Linked DNA regions of Homo sapiens. The protein of the gene in region 1 binds, or shares a complex with, the protein of each later gene. Each region holds a gene or a part of one and is shown in the gene's direction. Other genes may lie near its edges. The genes, in order: FLNA, ITGB2, CFTR and FBLIM1.

Evidence for each region.
Region 2: the proteins of FLNA (region 1) and ITGB2 are in contact, whole or in part, in a crystal structure (PDB 2JF1), measured with the Homo sapiens proteins. Residues at the interface, in NP_001104026.1 of Homo sapiens: Val2241, Thr2263, Ala2266, Gly2267, Ala2268, Gly2269, Gly2270, Leu2271, Ala2272, Ile2273, Ala2274, Val2275, Glu2276, Gly2277, Pro2278, Ser2279, Lys2280, Ala2281, Ile2283, Phe2285, Phe2311; in NP_000202.3 of Homo sapiens: Leu753, Phe754, Lys755, Ser756, Ala757, Thr758, Thr759, Thr760, Val761, Met762, Asn763.
Region 3: the proteins of FLNA (region 1) and CFTR are in contact, whole or in part, in a crystal structure (PDB 3ISW), measured with the Homo sapiens proteins. Residues at the interface, in NP_001104026.1 of Homo sapiens: Thr2263, Gly2267, Ala2268, Gly2269, Gly2270, Leu2271, Ala2272, Ile2273, Ala2274, Val2275, Glu2276, Gly2277, Pro2278, Ser2279, Lys2280, Ala2281, Ile2283, Ser2284, Phe2285, Asp2287, Phe2311; in NP_000483.3 of Homo sapiens: Ser10, Val11, Val12, Ser13, Lys14, Leu15, Phe16, Phe17, Ser18, Trp19, Thr20.
Region 4: the proteins of FLNA (region 1) and FBLIM1 are in contact, whole or in part, in a crystal structure (PDB 4P3W), measured with the Homo sapiens proteins. Residues at the interface, in NP_001104026.1 of Homo sapiens: Met2207, Gly2208, Thr2263, Arg2264, Gly2267, Ala2268, Gly2269, Gly2270, Leu2271, Ala2272, Ile2273, Ala2274, Val2275, Glu2276, Gly2277, Pro2278, Ser2279, Lys2280, Ala2281, Ile2283, Phe2285, Cys2293, Glu2306, Phe2311; in NP_001337080.1 of Homo sapiens: Lys7, Arg8, Val9, Ala10, Ser11, Ser12, Val13, Phe14, Ile15, Thr16, Leu17, Ala18, Pro19, Pro20.

What each region holds. Positions count from the first base shown.
Region 1 is NC_000023.11:154,357,635-154,364,634, reverse strand, and holds part of FLNA (filamin-A), read left to right. Parts: coding exon 1-109; intron 110-262; coding exon 263-376; intron 377-469; coding exon 470-613; intron 614-1,850; coding exon 1,851-1,974; intron 1,975-2,056; coding exon 2,057-2,217; intron 2,218-2,302; coding exon 2,303-2,393; intron 2,394-2,486; coding exon 2,487-2,656; intron 2,657-2,847; coding exon 2,848-2,965; intron 2,966-3,064; coding exon 3,065-3,327; intron 3,328-4,047; coding exon 4,048-4,645; intron 4,646-4,729; coding exon 4,730-4,903; intron 4,904-4,988; coding exon 4,989-5,151; intron 5,152-5,228; coding exon 5,229-5,389; intron 5,390-5,480; coding exon 5,481-5,651; intron 5,652-6,066; coding exon 6,067-6,190; intron 6,191-6,279; coding exon 6,280-6,436; intron 6,437-7,000. UniProt on the Homo sapiens protein: Promotes orthogonal branching of actin filaments and links actin filaments to membrane glycoproteins. Anchors various transmembrane proteins to the actin cytoskeleton and serves as a scaffold for a wide range of cytoplasmic signaling proteins.
Region 2 is NC_000021.9:44,889,897-44,896,926, reverse strand, and holds part of ITGB2 (integrin beta-2 isoform 1 precursor), read left to right. Parts: intron 1-1,866; coding exon 1,867-1,956; intron 1,957-3,382; coding exon 3,383-3,523; intron 3,524-4,930; coding exon 4,931-5,118; intron 5,119-6,704; coding exon 6,705-6,949; intron 6,950-7,030.
Region 3 is NC_000007.14:117,483,022-117,490,051, forward strand, and holds part of CFTR (cystic fibrosis transmembrane conductance regulator), read left to right. Parts: intron 1-7,030. UniProt on the Homo sapiens protein: Epithelial ion channel that plays an important role in the regulation of epithelial ion and water transport and fluid homeostasis. Mediates the transport of chloride ions across the cell membrane.
Region 4 is NC_000001.11:15,768,791-15,775,820, forward strand, and holds part of FBLIM1 (filamin-binding LIM protein 1), read left to right. Parts: intron 1-1,618; coding exon 1,619-1,788; intron 1,789-5,827; coding exon 5,828-6,006; coding exon of another isoform or gene 6,007-6,241; exon of another isoform or gene 6,242-6,431; intron 6,432-7,030. UniProt on the Homo sapiens protein: Serves as an anchoring site for cell-ECM adhesion proteins and filamin-containing actin filaments. Is implicated in cell shape modulation (spreading) and motility.

The sequences.
Region 1 (7,000 bases):
GGAGGCTGGCGAGTATGCCGTTCACGTGCTGTGCAACAGCGAAGACATCCGCCTCAGCCCCTTCATGGCTGACATCCGTGACGCGCCCCAGGACTTCCACCCAGACAGGGTAAAGAGCAGGCTGTGATGGCCTAAGTCTCGCCCTGCTGCTCCTGCTTGGGGTCTGGTGGGGATGGCACTCTGTGTCCCTGGCCACCCTGCCTGGGTTGTAGCTCTGGCAGCCTGGACCTGGCCCCCTGACAGCTGGGTGGTCTCCCGCTAGGTGAAGGCACGTGGGCCTGGATTGGAGAAGACAGGTGTGGCCGTCAACAAGCCAGCAGAGTTCACAGTGGATGCCAAGCACGGTGGCAAGGCCCCACTTCGGGTCCAAGTCCAGGTAGAGCACCCACGGGTGTTGGGGGCAGGGCAGGTGTGGGCACCCAGGCCTGGGCACTGACCAGCAGGCCACCTGCTCCTATCTGCCTGACAGGACAATGAAGGCTGCCCTGTGGAGGCGTTGGTCAAGGACAACGGCAATGGCACTTACAGCTGCTCCTACGTGCCCAGGAAGCCGGTGAAGCACACAGCCATGGTGTCCTGGGGAGGCGTCAGCATCCCCAACAGCCCCTTCAGGGTGAGCCAACCTCCACCGGCCTTTAGTCCATCTCGATAGCATTCACGTAGCACACGATTCGTCCATTTCAAGTGGTTGTGGCACACCATCCTGACTCCCCTGTCCCACAGCTCCTGGTGACCACTAACCTGCTTTCTGCTGTGGCTTTGCCTATCCTGGACATGTTCTATAGATGGAACTGTGTGCCATGTGGCCTTTTGTGTCTGGCTTCTTTCGCTCACCACGAAGTTTTCCGTGTTTTCGTTCATGTTTGGCATGTCTTGGCACTTTGTTCCTTTATAATTATTTTGTTTATTTATTTATTTATTTGAGATGGAGTCTCACACTGTCGCCCAGGCTGGAGTGCAATGGCGCGATCTCGGCTCACTGCAGGCTCTTTCTCCCAGGTTCACACCATTGTCTTGCCTCAGCCTCCCGGGTAGCTGGGACTACAGGCGCCCGCCACCCCCCCGGCTAATTTTTTGTATTTTTAGTAGAGACAAGGTTTCACTGTGTTAGCCAGGATGGTGTCGATCTCCTGACCTTGTGATCTGCCCACCTCGGCCTCCCAAAGTGCTGGGATGACAGGCATGAGCCACCGCGCCCATCCTGGTTTTTTTTTTTTGAGCCGGAGTTTTGCTCTTATTGCCAGGCTGGAGTGCAATGACGTGATCTCAGCTCACTGCAACCTCTGCCTGCCAGATTCAAGCAATTCTCTCCTGCCTCAGCCTCCTGAGTAGCTGGGATTGCAGGCATACGCCACCATTCCCAGCTAATTTTGTATTTTTAGTAGAGACGGGGTTTCTCCATGTTGGTCAGACTGGTCTCAACCGCCTGACCCCAGGTGGTCCGCCCACCTTGGCCTTCCAAAGTGCTGGGATTACAGGCATGAGCCACCACGTCCGGCCGCTTCATTTATTTTTATGGCCGCATAATACTCCATTGTGTGGCCAGACCACATTCCATTTTTCCGTTCACTTGCTAACAGATATTGAGGATGAGCTTGCCTTTGGTGATCATGAACAGTGCTGTTAACAGTGAGTCCAGGTGTTTGCGTGGACATTTGCTTTCATTTCTCTTGGGTAGTTGCCTCGGAGTGAACCGGAGCATCACACAGTCCCTCTGTGGTCAACTGAGGAACTGCCAGACTCTTCCCAAGGCAGCTGGACCATTTTGTGTGCCTGCCAGTGTAGCTGAGGGAGCTTCTGAGTCTCCTCCAGGCTGCTCATGCCCTTGCCCTTGCCCCTGTGCCCTGCAGGTGAATGTGGGAGCTGGCAGCCACCCCAACAAGGTCAAAGTATACGGCCCCGGAGTAGCCAAGACAGGGCTCAAGGCCCACGAGCCCACCTACTTCACTGTGGACTGCGCCGAGGCTGGCCAGGGTAAGGCCTGGCTGTGGGTGGGAGGGCAGGTGGCTGGGGTGTCCCTGCGAGGTCTCAGCCTCCGCTCCTCTCCCCGCCGCAGGGGACGTCAGCATCGGCATCAAGTGTGCCCCTGGAGTGGTAGGCCCCGCCGAAGCTGACATCGACTTCGACATCATCCGCAATGACAATGACACCTTCACGGTCAAGTACACGCCCCGGGGGGCTGGCAGCTACACCATTATGGTCCTCTTTGCTGACCAGGTGGGTGCTGCGCTCCTGGCCGCTAAGATGTCATTGCGGATGACGTCTGCCCTCCTCTAAGGCCTTCTCCTCCCACTGCCTGCAGGCCACGCCCACCAGCCCCATCCGAGTCAAGGTGGAGCCCTCTCATGACGCCAGTAAGGTGAAGGCCGAGGGCCCTGGCCTCAGTCGCACTGGTGAGGACAGGTACCCCATGGCAGGTTGCGGGGCATCAAGGGTAGGAGGGCTTGGGGCAGGGTGCCCCTACATGGTCCCTGTGTGTTCCTCAGGTGTCGAGCTTGGCAAGCCCACCCACTTCACAGTAAATGCCAAAGCTGCTGGCAAAGGCAAGCTGGACGTCCAGTTCTCAGGACTCACCAAGGGGGATGCAGTGCGAGATGTGGACATCATCGACCACCATGACAACACCTACACAGTCAAGTACACGCCTGTCCAGCAGGTAGCCACACCCTCCACTACAGTCACCGAGTCCCCAGCCTCCTCATGCAGCAGCCTAGGGGACAGCTCCGAGGGACTTTCTGCCCACTCTCATTCCTTACCTGGGAGAGGACAGGCATGGAGGTCCAGGAGGGGGTTGGGGAGCAATTCTGGTGTCTCTAAATACCCCCTTCCCTTCTGCACCCTTCCCAGGGTCCAGTAGGCGTCAATGTCACTTATGGAGGGGATCCCATCCCTAAGAGCCCTTTCTCAGTGGCAGTATCTCCAAGCCTGGACCTCAGCAAGATCAAGGTGTCTGGCCTGGGAGAGAGTAAGTAGTTGGGGCCCTTGTCGCAAAGGCCTTTGTCACATCCAGGGATTGGCTGAGCTGGGTGTCATGTCTCTCTCCTTCCTTTCATCGTTTCCACAGAGGTGGACGTTGGCAAAGACCAGGAGTTCACAGTCAAATCAAAGGGTGCTGGTGGTCAAGGCAAAGTGGCATCCAAGATTGTGGGCCCCTCGGGTGCAGCGGTGCCCTGCAAGGTGGAGCCAGGCCTGGGGGCTGACAACAGTGTGGTGCGCTTCCTGCCCCGTGAGGAAGGGCCCTATGAGGTGGAGGTGACCTATGACGGCGTGCCCGTGCCTGGCAGCCCCTTTCCTCTGGAAGCTGTGGCCCCCACCAAGCCTAGCAAGGTAATTGGGGTATGGGAGGCCCTAAGGGTAGAACCCACTGTGCTCTCTGAGGGCCCCAAAGGTACCCCATCTTCTCCAGACCTGCCCTAAATCCTTTTTTTTTTTTTTTTTTCCTGAGACAGACTGTCAACCTTGACCCTGTTTAAGTGAGAGTAAAGGGGAGGAGGGAAATAGAAACCCACAAAAAGTCATCAGGGTTGAAGAATTTCTTTTTTTTTTTTTTCTTTCTTTTTTTTTTTTTTTTTTTTTTTTTTTTTTTTTGAGAAAGAGTCTCACTCTGTCGCCCAGGCTGGAGTGCAGTGGCGCGATATTGGCTCACGGCACCCTCCGCCTCCTGGCTTCAAGCAATACTCCTGCCTCAGCCTCCCAAGTAGCTGGGATTACAGGTGCCCGCCACCATGCCCAGCTAATTTTGGTAATTTTAGTAGAGACGAGATTTCACCATGTTGGCCAGGCTGTTCTCAAACTCCTGACCTCAGGTGATCCACCCACCTTGGCCTCCCAAAGGGCTGAGATTACAGGCGTGAGTGACCGCGCCCTGCCCTCCTTTTTGTCCTTATGACTGATGGATGGCCCATCTGGCAGGCAGCCTGGGCCCGCCCGTGTCCCTGTTTGGTGAGGGCAGGAAGCCAGGGCAAGGGGAGGCAGGTGGAAAGTCAAGCAGGAGGTCTGGGATCGGGGCATAGTGTGGCCTTGGCTCCTGACCCCTTCTTCCCTCAGGTGAAGGCGTTTGGGCCGGGGCTGCAGGGAGGCAGTGCGGGCTCCCCCGCCCGCTTCACCATCGACACCAAGGGCGCCGGCACAGGTGGCCTGGGCCTGACGGTGGAGGGCCCCTGTGAGGCGCAGCTCGAGTGCTTGGACAATGGGGATGGCACATGTTCCGTGTCCTACGTGCCCACCGAGCCCGGGGACTACAACATCAACATCCTCTTCGCTGACACCCACATCCCTGGCTCCCCATTCAAGGCCCACGTGGTTCCCTGCTTTGACGCATCCAAAGTCAAGTGCTCAGGCCCCGGGCTGGAGCGGGCCACCGCTGGGGAGGTGGGCCAATTCCAAGTGGACTGCTCGAGCGCGGGCAGCGCGGAGCTGACCATTGAGATCTGCTCGGAGGCGGGGCTTCCGGCCGAGGTGTACATCCAGGACCACGGTGATGGCACGCACACCATTACCTACATTCCCCTCTGCCCCGGGGCCTACACCGTCACCATCAAGTACGGCGGCCAGCCCGTGCCCAACTTCCCCAGCAAGCTGCAGGTGGAACCTGCGGTGGACACTTCCGGTGTCCAGTGCTATGGGCCTGGTATTGAGGGCCAGGGTGAGTTGCCCTGCCGTGGGGTATGTGACGGGGGACAGGGACCAGAACCCCCGAGCCCCAAGCCTCCTCTCTGTGCCTTTGCAGGTGTCTTCCGTGAGGCCACCACTGAGTTCAGTGTGGACGCCCGGGCTCTGACACAGACCGGAGGGCCGCACGTCAAGGCCCGTGTGGCCAACCCCTCAGGCAACCTGACGGAGACCTACGTTCAGGACCGTGGCGATGGCATGTACAAAGTGGAGTACACGCCTTACGAGGAGGGTGCGTGCTGGGGACTCCCACAGGCTGGCAGACGGGGTGGGTGGGGTGGCCCGGGCTCCTCCTGACCTGGCCTGCACTCCTCCAGGACTGCACTCCGTGGACGTGACCTATGACGGCAGTCCCGTGCCCAGCAGCCCCTTCCAGGTGCCCGTGACCGAGGGCTGCGACCCCTCCCGGGTGCGTGTCCACGGGCCAGGCATCCAAAGTGGCACCACCAACAAGCCCAACAAGTTCACTGTGGAGACCAGGTAAGGGAGCCCCCAGGAGCCCGTGTGGCTGGTGGGCCTGGGAACCCCAGGAATGACCGGCTGTCTGTTTGGACCAGGGGAGCTGGCACGGGCGGCCTGGGCCTGGCTGTAGAGGGCCCCTCCGAGGCCAAGATGTCCTGCATGGATAACAAGGACGGCAGCTGCTCGGTCGAGTACATCCCTTATGAGGCTGGCACCTACAGCCTCAACGTCACCTATGGTGGCCATCAAGTGCCAGGTGAGGAGGTGGCGGCCAGGGCAGGGCTGGGACTGTCTGCTCGTCCCCACCCTGTCTCATACAGCCGCCATCCCTTTGCCCCAACCCTCAGGCAGTCCTTTCAAGGTCCCTGTGCATGATGTGACAGATGCGTCCAAGGTCAAGTGCTCTGGGCCCGGCCTGAGCCCAGGCATGGTTCGTGCCAACCTCCCTCAGTCCTTCCAGGTGGACACAAGCAAGGCTGGTGTGGCCCCATTGCAGGTCAAAGTGCAAGGGCCCAAAGGTGAGTGTTTGCATGCCTGGAGCCAGGGGTCAGGAGGGCAGTGTCCTGTTTGAGGGCCGGGAAAGGAAACTGGAGGCCCAAAGTGAGGACCAGAGTGCAGAGGTGGTGCAAGTGTGTAGGTGTTTTTGGAAGAGCCTCAGGTGACAGTGCAGCCAGGTGGGGGACTTGGAGGAGGTAGAGCAGATGGGACTGGTCACTGAGCAGATGTGGCAGGAAGGCAGGCAGGCAAGGGTCCCAGCTGGCACCCAGATGGGTGTCTTTCGTGCCAGAGGGGGTCAAGGCCATTCCCAGGGTCGGGTGGATGAGGATAAAGCGAGGTCTAGGCCTGGGGCTGGGTCCTGGCCGTCCAGTGTGGTGGGGTAGGAATGGAGGCCCAGGAGACTAGCTGATGCTCTGTCCCTGGGGCTGGGGCCAGGCCTGGTGGAGCCAGTGGACGTGGTAGACAACGCTGATGGCACCCAGACCGTCAATTATGTGCCCAGCCGAGAAGGGCCCTACAGCATCTCAGTACTGTATGGAGATGAAGAGGTACCCCGGAGGTAAGAGGCAGGGCCTGCTGCCTGTGGGGAGTGGCCCAGGCTGGATGCTGAGAACCTGTCTGACTGCTCACAACACCAATCCCTCACAGCCCCTTCAAGGTCAAGGTGCTGCCTACTCATGATGCCAGCAAGGTGAAGGCCAGTGGCCCCGGGCTCAACACCACTGGCGTGCCTGCCAGCCTGCCCGTGGAGTTCACCATCGATGCAAAGGACGCCGGGGAGGGCCTGCTGGCTGTCCAGATCACGGTGAGCTCCGGGCACAGGCAGGGGAGGCAGGGGGGCCTGGGCGGCTGGAGTGTGGGCTGCGGGTGGCTGGTGTCTGATCTCCCTGCGGAGCTGCACCAAGGAGGGCAGGGAAGGACAGGGCCCCTGTCTTTGGTTTGCTAAGGTTGTGACTACCTTAGGATGGTGGTGACAGGCACAGGCTTCCCCAGACGTGCACTTGCTGCTAACTTTGAGCACGTCACCAAAGCCTTCTGTGCCTCAGTTTCCCCACCTGTAATATTCTCATGGGGCAGGTATAGGATAGAAGCTTGAGATCACCCCGGTGAGCTCCTCCTAGTGCTGGCCAGGCCCTGGGGCTGAGGATGGGTGCCAAGCTGGCTGGCCGCGCCTGTTGTCATGTGGGAAGTGTGGGATGTTTTAGTCTCCATTCTGGACTCTGCCAGGTGCAGGCAGCCCTTTTGGGCCATAGCAGTTAAGATGCCTGAGGCCCAGAGACTGTCCCTGTAGCAGCAGCGCTGGGCACTCTGGGAGCGCCTGAGGCAGGCCCGGGGCTACTCGGGCTTGGGCCAACTGCCTCCCCTGCCT
Region 2 (7,030 bases), on another chromosome or scaffold:
CAATCCTTTGCCATTTGTCATGGCAGCCAGACTCCAGGCGATGGTGTGGCACCAGGGCCAGGCACTGGAGGCAGGTAGAGTGCACCCCATGCCTACTGCTGAGCCTTGGGGCACACAAGCCTTCCTCAGCCTTTCCTGGTCACCTTCGGGGGTGGTCAAGGCAACAGGCAGCGAGTGTGGACACACGTGCCACGCCCCCTCCGAGTGTGTTTCTGCACCAAGCGCACAGCAGGCTCAGCAGGACAGGATGTGGGAGGGCCCAGCTCTCCCAAGACAGGGATGGCCCCAGACTGGGACGGATGGAAGTGGGCGGTGGGCGGAGGGCGCAGAGGAGGGTGGTGGCCAGGCTGTGACCGGCCCCAGGAGCTCCATGGAAGGGACTGGGCCCATGCAGGGCAGTCATGGGAGGGTTTGGGCGGGGAGGTGACCCGACCATCTGCTCCGTGTTCCTGGAAGGTGAAATGATGCCGCAATCTTCCATGAAAGAAGCTGAGCATGTGTGAGCATGGGGGAGGCTGGCTGCGCCCCTGTGCATCTGGCCGGCCAGAACCGATGTCACCGGGCTGTTTAACACCCATGGAAACTCAGTAGAGTGCCAAGAGCCGATGGCTTCCTGGTGATTTTACTGTGATCCACCCTCGTGGGGCTACTTCCGCCTACCATCTGTGTGGTGGTAGGAATTCCCTACCTGTGTGGTGGAAATTCTGGCCAACACTGGCCACCATGCACGTCCTCCCAACCCAGTGATATTGCGAGCTTGAAATCCACCAGGCAGGATCACTCACACCACAGGCAGGAGTACTCACACCACAGGCGGGAGCAGTCACACCGCAGGCAGGATCACTCACACTGCAGGCGGGATCACTCACACCGCAGGCGGGAGCACTCACACCGCAGGCGGGATCACTCACACCGCAGGCAGGAGGACTCACACGGGCAGGCCTGGACAATGCTGCAGCTCAGGGCTTTGCTTTCTTTTCTTATCCTCATGATGCAACAGTAATTTTTTTTTTATTTTTTATTTATTTTATTTTATTTTATTTATTTTTTTATTTCATTTCATTTCATTTCATTTCATTTCATTTTATTTTATTGAGACAGAGTTTTGCTCTTGTTGCCCAGGCTGGAGTGCCATGGTGTGATCTCAGCTCATTGCGACCTCCGCCTCCTGGGTTCTCCTGCCTCAGTCTCCTGAGTAGCTGGGCTTACAGGTGCCCACCACCACGCCCAGCTAATTTTTGTATTTTTAGTAGAGACGGGGTTTCACCATGTTGGCCAGGCTGGTCTCAAACTCCTGACCTCAGTGATCCACCCACTTTGGCCTCCCAAAGTGCTGGGATCACAGGCGTGAGCCATCATGCCTGGCCTGGGTTTTTTTTGTTTTGTTTTGTTTTTTTGAGACAAGGTCTTGCTCTGTCGCCCAGGCTGGAGTGCAGTGGTGCGATCTCAGCTCACTGCAACCTCCACCTCCTGGGTTTAAGTGATCCTCCTGCCTCAGCCTCCCGAGTATCTGGTACTACAGGCATGTGACGCCACACCACTCTAATATTTGTACTTTTTGTAGAGATGGGGTCTTCTTATGTTGCCCAGGCTGGTCCTGAACTCCTGGGCTCAGGCAATCTTCCCACATCGGCCTCCCGAGTACTGGTATTCCAGGCGTGGCCCCTGGGCAGCTCAGGGCTTTTTACCCCCAAGAACCTCTTACCACACATCACTGACCACACACTCTGGGGACCAAGTGCAAAACTGCGTTGAGGACCGTCCCAGCCATTTTGCAGGTGCAGAAGCCCCTGGGGTGAGCCCAGTGCGTGGAGATGCCGTGGCACAGGTCCTAGCCGTGCCATGTCTGGTCTTCTTGCCCAACAGAAACTCACCGAGATCATCCCCAAGTCAGCCGTGGGGGAGCTGTCTGAGGACTCCAGCAATGTGGTCCATCTCATTAAGAATGCTTACAATGTGAGTCTCCCGCACCACTCAGCTGGGACCCATGGGGTGGCCAGCAATCTCCCCACTGCAGGTCAGCTCCTGCTGCAGGTCAGCAGGAGGGTGGTCTGGGAGGAAAGCCCCTGCCCCGTGGGCCAGCTGCAGCCTCCCGACCTGCCCTCAGGCCTCCAGGACACCCTGGCCCGGCACTTCCACGGGGAGCTCTGGGTCCTCTCTCGTTGATGTTGTGGGCGATGCTCCCTGAAACCTGAGCTCCGGACTCTTCATTCCAGACTCTTCTCTGCGGGTCTCTATGGAGAAGGGAGGTGGACAGCTCTGGTGGCAAACAGTGCAGCTGGGGCAGGAGGAGGCCACAGGAAACCCCCACAGTGGACTTGGGCCCTGGGAAGACACCCTGGGGGGTGGAATTCCTCTTGCTCTGTTCACCTGTCCTGGGCAAGCTCCAGAGAAGCCCTTAACCCCTGAATTTCTCCCTGGTGCACGGCCCATCGAGCTGCACCCTGGGCTGCTCCCCTGGGGAGCCCATGGCCCTGGTGGGCATAGGTAGGCATAGGTGCGCACTAGGTGCCATTCAGGGCCCCAGGCACCAGAGGTCCCGACTGCTCTGGAAATCTACCCCCAGGTGAGAGATGTTCTCAGAATTCTGGCCTGGATCCTTCTAGGCCAAAGGTCCTGCTGGCTTGAGGGAGCTCAGCACGTTAGCGCCTCCGACAAACGTTGGGTCATTGAATTAAACTGAAGGCCCGTGGAGGAGGTGCCATTTGCTTCTCGTAGCCTCCCGTGAGCCCCAAACCCCCAGAGCAGACCCTCCTGGGTGCCAGCCACTGCCCGAGGTGTTTCTGTCCTTACACAGAGGATGCAGGTGACGCCACTGCCCTGGCCATTCACCCGATGCCCCTATGAACCTGTCCCTCTGCCTCCTCTCAATTTCCGTCTGTCTCTCAGTCTTTGTCTCTCTTTCTCTGTCTCTCTCTGTCTGTCTCTCTCTGTCTCTGCCCCATCTCTGTCTGTCTCTGTCTCTGCCTCTCTCTGTTTCTCTCCATCTCTCTGTCTCTGGCTCTGGCTCTGCCCATCTCTGTCTGTCTCTGCCTCTCTCTGTTTCTCCCCATCTCTCTTATCGCTTGAACAATTTATGCAGCTCCTGCCCTGTGCTAGGTCCTGGGGACTCAAGGCTGAGGAGCAGCAGAAGCTCCCACCCCTGAGGCTCACACCCTGGCTCCATGCTAGTCCCTGTGGTCAGGCTGTCTCGAGGGCAGGACTGTGGCCCTGGCAGCCCTGCCATCCTCAGCACATCCTGCTGTGCTCTCCTCTGTGTCATTAGCTGACACTGGGGACTTGCACTGAGAGGAGAAGTGGAGACGGGTCTAAACCGCTGGGCCAGGCAGGGCCAGGACAACAGAAACACTCGCCCCCAAGAGTAACCGCTCTCTGCCCGCAGAAACTCTCCTCCAGGGTCTTCCTGGATCACAACGCCCTCCCCGACACCCTGAAAGTCACCTACGACTCCTTCTGCAGCAATGGAGTGACGCACAGGAACCAGCCCAGAGGTGACTGTGATGGCGTGCAGATCAATGTCCCGGTGAGCCTGGCCACAAGGGTCCCCATCCCAGCTTGCTGAGGGGCTCTGGGGACAGCCAGAAGGAGCCAGGGTCCCCATCCCAGCACACTGAGGGGTCCTGGGGACAGCCAGAAGGAGCCAGGGTCCCCATCCCAGCACTCTGACGGGGGCAGGGAGGGGCACACAGGCATCAGAGGCTGTCTGGGAGCAGGCAGCATCCACTGGAAGGACCCTGTTTCTTTCCTTCACATCCTCTCTGCCGAGGCCAGACGCTTTCCTTGTGAAGCTGATGTCAGGAACGTCAGTGAGAGGGTGCCGAGAGGGTGCTTCTCAGTGAGAGGGTGCTGGGAGGGTTCTTCACACACGCCTTGGCCCCCAAGAGTCCTACTCATCAACCTGGAGCCCAAATCCCTGGGTCAGGCCACTGCAGACTGAGGGATGGAGTGATGGCTGCGCCCCCTGGGGGCAGACGCCGGACACACAGAACAGGCGCAAACGGCAAACCTGGGTAGGGTTAGTTGTCATGATTTTCTGCGTGTTTCATTCTGTTTTTTTGACAGAAACATTAAGGCATGGGCCACACAGGTGGTTAGGAATGGACACTGAGTTCCTTCTCTAATCTTTCAGGTTTAAGTTTATTATCCAATCATTTGTTGTTTCTTTTTGTTTTTTGTTTTTTGTTTTTTTTTTTGCTAGCTGTGAAATAATATTCAGCAAGACACTTGCTTTCATTGCATTTTCTTAATATGACTTTGGAATTCCTTCAAACATGTTTCTTGGTAAATGTTGCCTGTGGATTTTTTTTTTTTTTTTTTTTTTTGAGATGGAGTTTCGCTCTGTCGCCCAGGCTGGAGTGCACTGGTGCGATCTTGGCTCACTACAATCCAAGTGATTCTCCTGACTCAGCCTCCTGAGTAGCTGGGACTACAGGCGTGTGCCACCACGCTCGGCTAATTTTTGTATTTTTAGTAGAGACAGAGTTTCGCCATGTTGGCCAGGCTGGTCTCAAACTCTTGCCCTCAGATGATCTACCCGCCTCGGCCTCCCACAGTGCTGGGATTACAGGCGTGAGCCGCGGCGCCCAGCTGTCCCATGGATTCTCACCAGAACGTTTCCCTCATGTTGGGTGGTCTGAGTGGGAGTGTGCTCAGCTTCTCCTGATTTGCTGTCTGCGTGTCACATGTCTCTGCTGATGTGTGGCCGGGGAGATCCTGGTGCCGGCCAGTGCGGGAGTGCGGGCAGAGCACCTCCTTGCCGGCTGACTTTGGCTCTCGGATCTGAGCATCAGCTCTTCCTGCTCCTGGTCACCCCTTCCTCCCCACGCTGAACCCCCCAGGACCCCTGCAGAGGCCAGGAGGTGAGGGTTGGGAGCTGGGCTGCCACCCTGGCCACCGAGGGTCCCCACCTGAGCCCAGCACTGCCCTGCAGATCACCTTCCAGGTGAAGGTCACGGCCACAGAGTGCATCCAGGAGCAGTCGTTTGTCATCCGGGCGCTGGGCTTCACGGACATAGTGACCGTGCAGGTTCTTCCCCAGTGTGAGTGCCGGTGCCGGGACCAGAGCAGAGACCGCAGCCTCTGCCATGGCAAGGGCTTCTTGGAGTGCGGCATCTGCAGGTGAGGCGGGCGCAGGTCCCTGTTGAACCATCCCCGAGCCCCACCCCACAGGGCAGGTGTCGGCAGGTGAGGTGGGTGCAGGTGGCTCCATCCCTTCCCCCACCCCACGGAGCAGGCATCCTGGGGGCCCCCTTCTGCAGGAGGTGGGGAGATTTGGGATTGGAACCCAGAACCCCTCGGCAAGCCCTCACCCGTGCTCCTGAGCCAGGGCACCAGCAATGCCAGCCTGTACTCTACACTCTCTGGCCATGGAGGACCCAAGGCAGGGGACTTGTGGGCAGGAGGACCCCCTCACCAGAGGATGGAGGCCCATCTCAGGGGCACAAGGAGTCCCCGCTGGGCGTGCCCATGGCCTTGAGTGGGTCACTTTCTCTGCCCGACCTTCCTTGACCCTAGGAGCTGGCTTCTCTCTGACCTTGGGGACCCAAGGCCATCAGGCTGGCAGCCCTGGGGCATGGGTGGCTAGAGAGCCTCCTGGGACAGGTGATGGCTTCTGGGAGCCTGGGCCCCATAGGCCACCTCTTGGGCGTGCACACCCCCTGCCAGGCGTGGGCACCCCACCTCAGGGAGAAGTGGGGGACAGGTGGACCCAGTGGGGAGGTTCACATGGCACTCAGCCAGGCGGCCTGCCCGGGGGCTGGATGGCTGTCCCCCTTTCCTTGCTTGCCTGGCCAGAGCTGCTAGGCTGACCTCCCAGGACTCTGCCCCCTTTGCTCTGGTCACCTCCTCCCCTGTCCTGACCGCAGTGCCAATCCACGTCCTGGTGGCAGTGCCCTTCCTCACCTTCAGGTCCCTGCTGCCCCCAGCCTCCTCCCATATCTCAGGACAATGATGGTCTCTGTGGTCTTGGTGGTCTCTGTTGCTGTCCTCGTGCCTCAGTGGCCACCCCGCCCACTGTCCTGGGTGTGCAGCCCTGGGGCGGCCTCTTCACGGGACTGTAGGGGTGACTCAGTCGGAACACTTGGCAGGTGTCGGGGGGTGCCCTGCCACAGGTACTCAGACACTCGGTCCTGCAGCTTCCTCCTCTGGGGAGCAGGAGAGCCCGTGGCAGTGCCGTCTCTGAGGATGCCTCAGGGTGTGTGTGGCTCCTGCCTGCCAGCGGCTTGATGCCAGCTTCCACATCTGTAAAAACCCCTTGTCCCTGCATTCTCCCACAACCTGGCCTGTCAGTGCACGAACGCAGGAGGGAGGGCGGGGCTGTGGCAGGAGGCAGTGCCGAGTCCCCACTGGCCACCATGTGGGGCACGCAGGAGCAGACACCAGCCACTCACAGAGCACCGGTATCGCAGCACAGGCCATGTGCATGGCTGCAACACAGCTCCACAGTGAGCCTGCCGAGCCACTGCATGCGCAGGCCAAGGCCAGGTGTCTGCTTTCCCCTCGGGACATCCTGGGGAGGGAACGCGGGGCCCCTGCACGTTTTGAGCACATTTAGTCCGTGGCAAGTGCTCAGTAGGCCTCGAGGAAAGCAAAATGTGCCATAGGGGTGTTCTCCACCAAGGGCAAGGGGCCTGGAGGACAGGGCGGCTGTCCCTTGTCCCACATCACTGGGGGGAGCCTGACCTTGGGGCCCCTCCTGTCCCCAGGTGTGACACTGGCTACATTGGGAAAAACTGTGAGTGCCAGACACAGGGCCGGAGCAGCCAGGAGCTGGAAGGAAGCTGCCGGAAGGACAACAACTCCATCATCTGCTCAGGGCTGGGGGACTGTGTCTGCGGGCAGTGCCTGTGCCACACCAGCGACGTCCCCGGCAAGCTGATATACGGGCAGTACTGCGAGTGTGACACCATCAACTGTGAGCGCTACAACGGCCAGGTCTGCGGCGGCCCGGGTGAGCCCGTGGGTCCCTGCTGGACAACGGCCGTCCTGCGGCACAGACTTGGTGTTGGGGGGTGCGTTCTGGACCATTCAA
Region 3 (7,030 bases), on another chromosome or scaffold:
GTTAGGATCTAAGGTGGAAATTCAGCAAAGAATCACATAGTCTAAGTCTCGAGTTTAACAGTAAGATAATTTGAGATACTTTTGTAATTATTAAACACAAAGTAATGAGAGATTTTAAAACAAACAAATACACCTGAATTTATATATCAGAATAGGTATGGTGGTTCAAAATAGCTATCTAATAAAAACCACACTCCTATTCTAAACATTTGCCTTTGATCAAAATAATTTTGGGTCTCTTATTATGAAATTGCCTTTCTAAATAATACATAAATTTCTTCTCATAAGTATATATTAGCCACATTATTTTATTGTTATTGTTTTATATTCATAGCTTGCTTTAGATTAAAAATTATATTACCCAGACTGGTCTCTTGGACTTGCTTCCAAGTGACTTTTGACTGTATCACAAAATCAAATTCACTCTGAAAATATAAAGATTTTTCATCATAATTTCCTTTGTTAACAGCCAAGTGCTACCTAATTTTAGGTGTTTTCATTAAAAAAAAATGCATTGCAAACTTTAAAGACAATTCTTTTGTTTGTTTGTTTTTAAAAGACAGAGTCTCACTCTGTTGCCCAGGCTAGAGTGCAGTGACACAATCATAACTCACTGCAACCTCCACCTCCTGGGCTCAAGTGAGCCTTCCATCTTGCCTCACGAGTAGCTGGGTCTTCAGGTGTACAGGTGTGTACCACCATGCCTGGCTAACTTTTTTTTTTTTTAAGTTATATAGAGACAGTATCTCACTATGTTGCCCAGGCTGCTCTTGGAGCTCCTGGCCTCAAGTTATCCTCCCACTCAGTCTCCCAAAGTGCTGGGATTACAGGCGTAAGCCACCTCACCCTGTCAGCCTAAAGACAGTGCTTAATGAAGAGAAATATAAGTGCTTTGAGCAATGGAAGTATAATTAAAATTATACTATGAAAGATTTATAAAGATGACCATTTTGAATGGGACCACACTTATTTGGTTATATAAATTATGATACACTATTAAAAATTCATCATGATGATTTTGTATTTACATTTTATTTACATGTTTGCAATTTGTGAGGAAAGCTAAAATTATGGCTAAGCCATAAATATTTTTGCAGTTTGTTGAGGGTGTTTGTAAAAGTGTTGCCAAGGAAGACCAGTTGGCTACCCAAACAAGGGTTTAGTCTAGGTCTGATCAATACATACACATTATCTCAGGTTTGTCTATCAGAAAAACCTTAGGTTATCCAAATCAAAATAAAATAGATGCATAAAACAAAGGCCAATATGTGTTGAACAATTATATTGTGATATACAACTGCCAAGCATTCCCGATTACCATGACTCCATTTAGTCAGTCCATGGGCAAATGCCATCAATGAGGACAGCCCAGGGTTTCCATATTCTCTCTTGGCTTTACATCCTATAGGAATTGGAGGGGCCCACCTCTGGGATAGGAGCCCTTCTGTCTTGAACAATGTTGTCTGAACACTAACAAATGTTGACTTTCTACACCAGTCCCTCAATAGTCTTTTCTATTTATCCTTTTGCTGACCATGTTTTGTTATTACACAGTTGAGATTTTTCAGCTGGGAATCTGTGTTAATTTTGTATTAATTTTGATTAGCTTAACTCTCAGAGTTCTAAAAGTACCTCCTGTACCTGATATATGACAAAAATTATAATTACATTTATTTATATATAAAATATCTTTGTATATGTAAAATATCTTTGTATATATAATTATATAATTGTTTCTTTTAATTTTGCAAATTTTAAAAAGTTCTCCTTTGTTTTGAAGTTTATTCCTATAGTTTTTTATATGCTAGTTAAATTATTAATCACTTGATTCAAGTAATATTCTTATATACTTATAAGGAATAGTGTAGTTTTAATATTTAATTCCTTGCTAAAGAGAGAAGTGGAATCTATTTTTCTTAGCTACTTCATCAATATTTTATGTTTGATGTGACAGTCAAAATATCCCTCAGAGCTAACTGTTACACTAGGGAAATCACGGTTTTCCAGTTTTCCATTTATGTGTTATGGGAGGGAGTGGAACTTAGTGTAATAATATTCAATACATAAATGTTAACACTTGTTTAAAGGTCCTTGAGTGAGTACTGCTATAAAATGCATTATTATTGCTAGTGTCATTTCACAAGAGCCTATAATTTCAGTGTGATAGAGCTACAATATAAGTATAGTATTGCAAAACCATCAGGAAGGGTGTTAACTATTTAGCATGCAGTTATGTGTTGGTTGTCAAAACGTTAAAAACATCTCTGACTCAGCAGCAATTTTGGCAATTTTGATCCTGAGGCATCTGTGTAGGGCATCTTCCTGGAGAAAAACCTCTGAGATGCAATGAGGTCAAAAGGGGAAAACAGACTATGATAAAGATCAAGTTGTTTGGAGATCTTGTAGAAAGATTAATTTACAAATATGTCAAGTGCATTATCATGGAGGAAAACATTGCTATTTCTGTTGGTTCTCTTCAGAGCTCTAGAATCAATTTACCACATAGTTGTTTCAGTGTGAAATTAGCATTACAGAGTGGCTTTACGGCTTTACTGTAGGGCATTGTGTCAGCAAAGAGCTTAGGCTTCTTTTAGCAAGAAGCTTGTAAAAATTTAATTTACTCTTAGATTGCTTGATGTAGAGAATTACATTCCTACAGAGCTCTGAAAAATCTTTTTTCAGAGTTTTTCACAGCTGTATTCAAGTTGCAAGGCTTGTCAACTTTGCTATTTTTCTGTGCAGCTCTGTTAACTTATTATTATCTTTTGACATAAATTATGATTCCAAATTGTAAAGCTCTGGATGTCAGGGCCTTTTCTAATTTGTTTAGTATGATATTCAGACCATTTCAAGACTCTTCCGTGGAACAATTTAATAAAGATTTTTTTGTGATGTTAATGAGTTCATGGTGATCAACCCTAGAGACCTGTGTCTATTGTAGATCGATGACATTCAACAGTCCTGCAGTGCTGGCATCATTTTGATAAAAAGGGGTCAAAGCAAGTGGGACTGTGGGCAGATTTTTAATGCTTAGAACAATTATTCCATCGAAGTTTTCTTGTGTCCCTTCTGCCTTAGCCTTTGTAGGATAGCATGCTTGCTAATTTCTTGCTCATGGGGTAAGGAAATGAAGATTTTTGCTAGGTCCGTAGGATTATTAGGACTACTCAGGCCTGAAGCTATGCCTGGATATAGCCAGAAAACTCTCCCATAGCTTGCTCCAAGGAGCTGAGATACAGCAGTACTTCCTTTGTAGGTCATGATTCTGGGTAACCTGGAAGATGACCTCATTCATATTCTGTATTCTATGTGAGACGTTAAGAAGGTAGAGGTGGCCAAGAAGGAAATTGTTGCTGCCTTTATGGAACAAATTATCTGAAACCCAGCTTTCTCGAGGGCTTCATTGAAGTACTCAACTGGGGCACTTAACCCAGTCTAAGGCTGGTCAAGGAAGGCTTGCTGGGGGAAGTGTCTTTTGTATTCACACCTAAAGGAGGTTATTCAATTAGAATTATCCAAAGAGGGTAGGGATGGGCTAGGAAAAATTTAAACAGGTAGTGTGGAGGACTGACAGGATAAGTAAGCATGGCACCTTCAAAATATCCTGAGAAGTTCCCTATGACGGGAACATAAAATATGTGACAGAGATTTGTGGGAGATGGGTCTGGAAACTCTAGCAGGGGCCAGATCGTAAGGGGGCTTTGTAGGCTTTGTAGGCTTTGTTTGGGCTTTATCATACTGGAAGTGAAAAGCCATGGCTTTTAAACAGGAGAGGGACATAATCAGTTCATATACTGTTGCAGTTTTGTAAAAGAAAAGATGAGCTGAAAGAGTGGCCATGGTGGAGGTGGGTGGGGTGGGGGGGAGGGGGCGGGGAGAGAGAGAGAGAGAGAGAGATTTGAAAGACATTTAGGAGGTAAAATCAACTGGTTTGGTAATCAATTAGTAGTTGAAGGTGAAGGAAAGAGAAGAGTTAAGGATAACATCTATATTTGTTGATTTGGATAATAGAGGGGACAGTGGTGCTGCTTATTGAATGAGAAAATTTAATCGGAGAAGAAGGCATGGAGCAGGAGTGCAGACCTATGTGACTCTACTTCTCTCAAAACCAGAAACGGAAATGATGTATATGGCTCAGGGTTAGGTAATATGGTTATTTGAAAATGTATTAAAGTGATTTAGAGCTTAGTCTTAGGTAAGAGATATAAGATGTCTGAGGTGACAGTTTTATAAATATGTAGAGTGCCCACTTGTTTGGCCTTATTGTGGCATAGTGTGACCTGAGAGTGTTAGGAAGAAGCAGCTGAGTTCTAGGGACAGTACTGGTTAAATTCTACTTAGAAATTATACTTAGAACTCTCCTATATAACCTGCTAACTGATGTCTGAACCTCCTGATAACTTCACTCCTTTAGGCAGTGCTTTTCACATCACGGGACACAACATATGAGAGATCATAGAAATTCAATGTGGTATGAAAATCTGCTTGGGACTTCAGATATTGTCTCCAGTGATTGAATAAAAATAGGAGCTCACCTACTATGATGAGGTTTCTGTGTGTGTTAAAAGAAGGTTTTCATTACTTTTGAAAAGGTTATGTATCCTTGTTTTATGTTAAAACTTTGAGCTTTGTTAAATATGCAGAGTTCTCTTTCTTAGCATGGACTACAGAGGTGCAACTACCTCCTACCTGACTTCACATCTACTCCCAAATGCCTAGTGAAGGCTTAATAATTTCAAAAAGGGACTCTAGAATTTCATTTGATACCAGTCAGACAAATGTGTGAAAATTAAGCATAATAGGCAGAATCCCAGGGGTACTGACAGCTGTATTAAGAGGTGATTCAAGGGCTAAACCTTAGAGTCCAGCATTGGTTATGGGTGTGACAAGAAAATGAAGCCTATGTTGGCTGGGATTAGCAACCACAGTTCTAGAGGAAGCAAGGTGGAGAAACTATATAGGGGGCTCCCTTTGTACGTTTTATTTATTTTAAACATCTCTATAAACTCTAGAAATTAAAACAACAATACCAACACAAAAGCATCACTTTTTCGACCAAAGACCATTGCTATACTTTTTTGTGTAAAGGGCTAGATAGTAAATATTTTCAGCTTTGTGGGCCACATAAGTCTCTGCAATAGACAATATGCAAACAAATAAGCATGGCTGTGTTTCAATTAAACTTTATTATGAACATTAAAATTTGAATTTCATATAACTTTTACATGTTGCAAAATATTCTTTATTTAAATTCTATTGCAATATGCTTTAAAAGATACAGTTTTTAGTCTTTCTTAGTTTAAAATAAAATCTAGAAAAAATTTTAAGTCTTCTATAACTTTTTTTCGGTAACTGAATAATTTTAAAAGTAAGTGAAACATTTAGACATGCAAAATGGACTTTTCAGAAGAAGAAAATGGTAGCTTAACAGTTATTAGATTATTGTCCAGAATAATTTTTGACTTATAAGTCTCTGTTGACCATTTCATTGCCTCTTTTTTTGGAATATGCATCTTTTAATGTGTCCTTCAAGGCAAAGGCTCTATCTTATCTATCTTGTGTCTTGCATTTTCCCAGGGCAATGTTTTTCACAATTTTTTTAAAAAACAATACTGTAATCAATTTTCAAATAAAATTTTCCATGGGACCGCAGTGTATACAAATAGCAGTGACAATAAAAGATAATAACTCTCCCATAAATACAAAGAAACAGTTAACCTAGTGCTCTAAAGTAAAGGCTACAGTGATTTTGTATAACATTTATATGTAATTTTCTTGATCCTACATGGTTGTGTTTTTCACAGTGTTATGTTTCTGAAATCGAGATGCCTTTTATAATTGATGTCAAAAGAAACTTGTCAGCCACAAGGCCCAGGAATAAGTTGTAATATGGGAACTTAGCAATACATAAAGGTATATATACTCCTGTGACCTCAGCTGAATTATTTGCATTGGTTGCATCCCACAAGGTTGACTCTTAAATAAATTTAGTTTGTTGCTTGAAATTTCTTGGGATAAATTACTTTGTGATGTAGTTTTGAAAAAAAAACAGGTAATATTTAGTCTGAAGTTTGTCTGACATACTAAGCAATGTAATTAAAGTAGAAGTCGCCTAAGCTCAGCACTTTATTATGCCTTGAAATTATACTGCCTGTCCTACAGGTGAAGGTGTTATGAATGCAGTTTGTCACTGTAACTCTATTCATAGCTCTGAAAGGCTGAGAGTGACTCAGAAGAATATTTTTGCTCTGAATATGAAGAACGCTTAGACTAAAACTTTAATTACGATGCTGAAGAAGAAAGTGGTAGGTGATTGCATGAATAAGTATGTAATATTGTTAATTTCTAAAAACTGTGTATAGTTAATGTAGTGCTTCTTTTTGGAAAGGCTATTGTTAAATTGATGGTAAATTCTATAACCAATATCACCTTAAAGCAAGTACGCATGATAAAGTATTATAAAACCATGATAATATCATATGTGGCTTATTATTGTTCCCTGAGTGTTGTACAACTCTGTTATGCTGTGATGAAACCTCATGCAAACAGGTATGTCAAAGATATGATGGGCTGTTAACTGAGCTTGGCCCACATATGGTGTAGTGACATGCTCACTAATGCAGTGCAGAGATAACCAATAACAGATCATAACAGGTTTAAATATGTGCAAGGAGATGTCAGCAGAAGCTTTCCTACATAGTGAATACTAAACAAGCCTGACAGCCCAGGATCATGTTCGGATCAATCTAGTGTGCTAAAATTAACATATAGTCCTACATTTGAGAATGTGTGATTTTCTTGGTTCCTGTCTATAAAATAATATTTTAAAATACATACATTTCAAATCAGAAGTTGGTGAATTCACTGAAATATTTCTAGAGAACACTAGGTATTGGGGCTCATAGTGTGAAAACCACTGACTTAATTCTTCCCCCATCTTGGTTGTTCCTGATCTTCCCTTGTGTCCCCATTCCAGCCATTTGTATCCTTAGAAAATGATCTCATATTCTACTTCATCTTTATCTTCATT
Region 4 (7,030 bases), on another chromosome or scaffold:
CTTTAGCCTTTTTCCCTTTATACCTAAATTCTATTTAAAATGTTAGTCTGCAGTTTGCTATGATAGCAAAAATGTCTTGAATTTTTTCTCACTATTTTATTTTCTGAACACCTAATGCCCTCACACAGTGCAAAATAAACAGCATGAGTGGGGACACAGTGAGAAGCCTGCAACCTGCCCCATCCCCCTACCACCCGGTTTCCTTCCAGATGGGTGTCCTCTGTCATTGAGCTCTCATGTATCCTGCCAAAGACACTATGCACATACGAGCAAATACAAATATGTGTCCACCTGCTCCCTCCCCCCATTTTTCCATAAGTAGCAAACTAGGCTCTTCTGCTGTTCACTTTCTTTCCTTCGTACATCTCAGAGCTGGTCACACATCAGAATATAAAGTGGCTCCTGGCTGAGCGTGGTGGCTCACGCCTATAATCCCAGCATTTTGGGAGGCTGAGGCAGGTGGATCACCTGAGGTCAGGAGTTCGAGATCCGCCTGGCCAACATGGTGAAATGCTGTCTCTACTAAAAATACGAAAGTTAGCTGGGTGTGGTGGTGTGTGCCTGTAATCCCAGCTACTCGGGAGGCTGAGGCAGGAGAATCTCTTGAACCCAGGAGGCGGAGGTTGCAGTGAGCTGAGATTGCGCCACTGCTCTCCAGCCTGGGTGACAGAGTGAGCTTCCGTCTCAAAAAAATAAAAAAATAAAATAAAATAAATAAACAAAGTGGCTCCTGGCTGGGTGTAGTGGTTCATGCCTGTAATCCCAGCACTTTGGGAGGTCAAGGCAGCCAACAATCCCTTTGTCCTGAAACTGCTGTCCAGAATTCCTTATTTATTTATGTTATTTATTTTTATTTTTATTTTTTTAGACAGAGTCTTGCTCTGTCACCAGGCTAGAGTGCAGTGGCGCGATCTTGGCTCATTGCAACCTCCACCTCCTGGGTTTAAGCGAGTCTCCTGCCTCAGTCTCCTGAGTACTGGGACTACAGGCGCCCGCTACCACGCCCAGCTAATTTTTGTATTTTTAGTAGAGACAGGGTTTCACCATGTTGGCCAGATGGTCTCGATCTCTTGACCTTGTGATCCGCCCACCTCGGCATCCCAAAGTGCTGAGATTACAGGTGTGAGCCACCGCGCCGGGCTCTTTATTTTTTTTAATTTTTATTGTTTTTCCTGAAACAGAGCCTCACTCTGTTACCCATGCTGGAGTGCAATGGCACAGTCTCGGCTCACTATAACCTCTGCCTCCTAGGTTCAAGTGATTCTCCTGCCTCAGCCCCATGAGTAGCTGGGACTACGGGGGCATGCCACTATGCCCGGCTAATTTTTGTATTTTTAGTAGAGATGGGGTTTCACCATGTTGGCCAGGCTGGTCTTGAACTCCTGTCCTCAAGTGATCCGCTCACCTTGGCCTCCCAAAGTGCTGGCATTACAGGTGTGAGCCACCATGCCTGACTCAGATTCCTTTTTAATGCTCCTCATGACCCTCTGTATTTGTCATTTGAGGAATTTGCAGGGTTTAAGACAGAGCCTCGGGTATCCTGAGCATGTTCTGGGTGGTGCCTGGGTACAGTCCTCACAGGCTGGGCTGGTGATGGCCTGTGTCTCCCCTACCCCAGACATCTGTGCCTTCTGCCACAAGACCGTGTCCCCCCGAGAGCTGGCTGTGGAGGCCATGAAGAGGCAGTACCATGCCCAGTGCTTCACGTGCCGCACCTGCCGCCGCCAGCTGGCTGGGCAGAGCTTCTACCAGAAGGATGGGCGACCCCTCTGCGAACCCTGCTACCAGGTAACCCCTGCAGCAGACCTCTGGGTGCCAGGCAGTGAGCTGAGCACTTAGAATATGTTGCACCATTTCATTCCCCACACAGTCCTGGGAAGTAGGCACTATTGACCCCTTTCACAGATGAGGAAACTGAGGCTCAGAAAGAAGGAGCCCAGTGAAGGCGATTGGTTTCCTAGGGCTGCCTGTAAGAGATCACCACAACCTTCGTGGCTTCCAGCAGTACACGTTTATTCTGTCCCAGTTCGGGAGATCAAAAGTCCAAAATCAGCTTCACTGGGCCAAAACCAAGGTGGTGTGCTGTCTGGAGGCTTGAGGGAGAACCCACATCTCTGCCTTTTGCAATTTCTTTTTTTCTTCTTCTTCTTCTTTTTTTTTGCGGTGGGGGACGGAGTCTCACTCTATCGCCCAGGCTGGAGTGCAGTGGCACGATGTCAGCTCACTGCAACCTCGGCCACCCAGGTTCAAGGGATTCTCCTGCCTCAGCCTCCCGAGTAGCTGGGATTACAGGCACCTGACACCACACCCGGCTAATTTTTGTATTTTTGGTAGAGATGGGGTTTCACCATCTTGGCCAGGCTGGTCTTGAACTCCTGACCTCGTGAGCCACCCACCTCGACCTCCCAAAGTGCTGGGATTACAGGCATGAGCCACTGCGCCCAGCCTGTTTTTTTTTGTTTTTTTTTTTTTTTAAGATGGAGGCTCATTCTGTCACCCCAGCTGGAGTGCAGTCGTACAATCTCAGATCACTGCAACCTCTGCTTCCCGGGTTGAAGCAATTCCCATGTCTCAGCCTCCTGAGTAGCTGGGACTACAGGTGCCTGCCACCATGCCCAACTAATTTTTGTATTTTTAGTAGAGATGGGATTTCACCACTTTGGCCAGGCTGGTCTCAAACTCCTGACCTCAAGGAATCCACCCCCTCGGCCTCACAAAGTGCTGGGATTACAGGTGTGAGCCACCGCACCTGGCCCCTTTTGCAGTTTATGAAGCTGCATTCTCCTTGACTCCTTCCTCTGCTTCAAAGCCAGCAGTGTAGCATCCCACTTCAGCGGCCCTATTGTCACCTCTGTGTCAAGTTACAGGGACACGCGATGGCATTTAGGACCCACCTGGATAATCAGGATAATCTCCCCCATCTTAAGATCCTTAGCTCATCCCATCTGAAAGCCTCTTTTGCCGGGCAAGGTAACATTCGGGGTCCAGAGATAAGGACTGGATATCTTTGGGGGCATCTCTTAGCTACCACACGAGGTCACACGAGATGGCCAAGGAGCTGGGATTCTACTCCACACCCATCTGGCTCTGGAGCCTGCCATCAGTCTTGCCACTATCTCCCCTAGAGTAGAGCCACAGGGTTCCAATGTTTGATCTCACGGGAATCTGTGTTGCTTCCGGGTACCAAGTGCAATCTGGGAGAGCCAGCTGGGATGCCAGCACACTGGAATTTCTAACTCTTGGATGGTTTGTGGTGGCATGTTGAGTGTGGTGACCACCCACAGCCGCATCCCCTGGGGATGTGTAGGCCACTCTTTGTGCTTATGAATGAGGAACACCTGGAAATCAGCATTTTGAATCAGTGTCTCAAGTGATTCTCATGCATATAGAAGTTTGAAAACGGCTGATTTGAAGGGTTAGAGTATTTGGAGCTGAGACTCTCCAGAAGAATCCAAACAATCCAATCCCAGGCTCACCACCAGTGAGGCACTGTGGGAAGAGAGAGGAGCCAGGCCCTCCCTGCCGTGTCCCTGTGACCCCATCAACATCATGGGGGAGTGTTCCTCAGGGGTGAGACACCAGGGGAGGAGGGGTGTCCAGCTGGAAGCAGGAAGCAGCCAGGAGGAAGACTTGAGCAGTGTGCTGGGGAGAGAAGGGCCATGCCCATGAGAGGGAGGGGGGAGTGGGAGATGCCCCCACACGTGTCCAGGTGAGGTCAAGGTAAAATGCACAGGAGCACAGCCAGGAAGGAGAGACAGCATGTCCAGGAGAAAAGGTGGAAAGGCTAGAGGGAAGCCCACTGCCCTGCCTCGGGAATCTCTTTGTCATTGCTCCTCATTCCAGAAGGAATTTGAGGCAGCTTCTATGAATGCATGTATACCAGCCAGGCGCGGTGGCTCACACCTGCAATCTCAGCACTTTGGGAGGCTGAGGTGGGAGGATTACTTGAGGTCAGAAGTTCAAGACGAGCCTGGGCAACATAGCAAGACTCCATCTCTATTTTAATATAGCTATTTTTTTATTAAAATATGTTTTTAAAGAGAATGCATATATACCTATAGACCACAATAACATGCGTGCACTGAAAAATTCCACGTGATTCTCCCGCCTCAGCCTCTCAAGTAGCTGGGATTACAGTTGCCCACCACCACGCCCGGCTATTTTTTGTATTTTTAGTAGAGACGGGGGTTTCACCATGTTGGCCAGGCTTGTCTGGAACTCCTGACCTCAGGAGATCTGCCTGCCTCAGCCTCCCAAAGTCCAGGGATTACAGGCATAAGCCACCTTGCCTGGCGCATTTCTTCTTAAAGCATCATATAAAATTATGTTAACTGGCCAGGTGCCGTGGCTCATGCCAGGCCGAGGCAGGTGGATCACCTGAGGTTAGGAGTTCGAGACCAGCCTGACCAAAATGGAAAAACCCTGTCTCTACTAAAAATACAAAAACTAGCCAGGCATGGTGCGTGCCTGTAATCCCAGCTACTTGGGAGGCTGAGGCAGGAGAATCACTTGAACCCGGGAGGCAGAGGCTGCAGTGAGTCAAGATCACACCACTGCACTCCAGCCTGCGCAACAGAGCAAGACTCCATCTCAAAAAAAAGAAAAAGCCTGGGCACGGTGGCTCACGCCTGTAATCCCAGCACTTTGGGAGGCTGAGGCAGGCAGATCACCTGAGGTCAGGAGTTCGAGACCAGCCTGACCAACATGGAGAAACCCCGTCTCTACTAAAAATACAAAAAATTAGCCGGATGTGGTGGCGCATGCCTGTAATCCCACCTACTCGGGAGGCTGAGGCAGGAGAATTGCTTTAACCCGGGAAACGAGGTTGTGGTGAGCCAAGATTGCGCCACTGCACTTCAGCCTGATTGACAAGAGCAAAACTCCGTCTCAGAAAAAAAAAAAAAAAAAAAGGTAGATCTCATGTTAAGTGTTCTTCCCACAATAAAACAATTTTTTAAAGACTGCAATAATACTACGATATGTAAAATAAAGACATCCAAACAGAAGGAAAATCAAAATAGAAAGTGAGACGAGATCAAAGGGAATGTTACTACCCAAAATGTGTGAGGAAGCCAGACACGGTGGCTCACGCCTGTAATCCCAGCACTTTGGGAAGCTAACGTGGGTTGATCACTTGAGGTCAGGAGTTCGAAACCAGCCTGGCCAACATGGTGAAACACCGTGTCTACAAAAAATTAGCCGGGCGTGGTGGCGCACACCTGTAGTCCCAGCTACTCAGGAGGCTGAGGCATGAGAATCACTTGAACCTCAAGTAGAGGATGCAGTGAGCTGAGATTGGGGCACTGCACTCCAGCCTCAGTAACAGAGCGAGACTCTGTCCCAAAACAAAACAAGAACCAAATAACAACAAAAAAGCCCTATAATGGTTTCTAAACGTGAAATGTGGAATTTGGCTCTGAGCTTCCAAGTGGCCAAATGGAAAAGGGAAAGAATTTCAAGTCTTCTTGTCTGTATGATAAAGCACCCAATTCTCCTGAGAATTCCTTTTCCTGACCCTGAGGTTTAAGCGAGGTTTCTCCTATAGCTCTGTGGACCCTGGCCATAAACATATCCCAGTAACAAGAAATGCAGCCATAGCATCAGGGCATCAGGGCAGTATTCCTTGCTGTAAGCCAAGGATGCAAGGCTAAGCTCAATTTGTTATAAGCAATGGTGGAGGTTTTGGGCGATAGTTACAGGTTGTCTGCAGGCCTCTCCTGTACTTCCCAGTTCCTGGGCCCCTGAGGGCAGCCTCTCAGAAGAAGACGACCCTCGTGGGTTGGGGTGGGTGTGTCGTGGATGGTTCTGGCAGTGGCCTCTGTCCTAGGACACACTGGAGAGGTGCGGCAAGTGTGGCGAGGTGGTCCGGGACCACATCATCAGGGCCCTGGGCCAGGCCTTCCACCCCTCCTGCTTCACGTGTGTGACCTGCGCCCGGTGCATTGGGGATGAGAGCTTTGCCCTGGGCAGCCAGAACGAGGTGTACTGCCTGGACGACTTCTACAGGTACGAGAAGGGTTTGTGCACTGGGTGGGGTGCAGGGACAGGGCGAGACCCAAGCAGGGTGAAGGAGCTGAGCTTGAGTCCTGGGTGCTGGGCCAGAGTTTCCTGTCTACTGGTTTATTATAAAGAATATTACAGGGCTGGGCTGGGCGCGGTGGCTCACGCCTGTAATCCCAGCACTTTGGGAGGCCGAGGCGGGTGGATCACGAGGTCAGGAGATCGAGATCATCCTGGCTAACATGGTGAAACCCCGTCTCTACTAAAAATACAAAAAAAATTAGCCAGGCATGGTGGCGGGCGCCTGTAGTCCCAGCTACTCGGGAGGCTGAGGCAGGAGAATGGCGTGAACCTGGGAGGCAGAGCTTGCAGTGAGCCGAGATCACGCCACTGCACTCCAGCCTGGGCAACAGAGTGTGAGACTCCGTCTCAAAAAAAAAAAAAAAAAAAAAAGAATATTACAGTGCTGGGGGCAGTGGCTCACACCTGTAATCCCAGCACTTTTGGAGGCCAAGGTGGGCAGATCATGAGGTCAGGAGTTTGAGGCCAGCCTGGCCAATACGGTAAAACCCCATCTCTACAAAAAATACAAAAATTAGCTGAGCATGGTGGTGTGTGCCTGTAGTCCCAGCTACTTGGGAGGCTGAGGCAGAAGAATCACTTGAACCCAGGAGGTGGAGTTTGCAGTGAGCCGAGATCGCACCACTGCACTCCAGCCTGGGTGACAGAGTGAGACTCTGTCTCAAAAAAAAAAAAAAAGAAAAGGATATTACAGCGATACAGACAGACACGTGAAGAGATGCCTAGGATGAGGTCTAGGGGAAGGGGCAAGGAGCTTACATGCCCTCCCTCCCCAAGTGTGCCACCCTCCAGGAACCCCCACATGTTCAGCCACCTGAAAGCTCCCGAACCCTGTCCTCTTGGGCCTTCTATGGAGACGTCATTGGATAGGCATGATTGACCACCCAGTAGAAATTCGGCTGGAGGAAAAGGGTATGGTGGAAGCTAATAAACTGAGAGGGAAACCTAG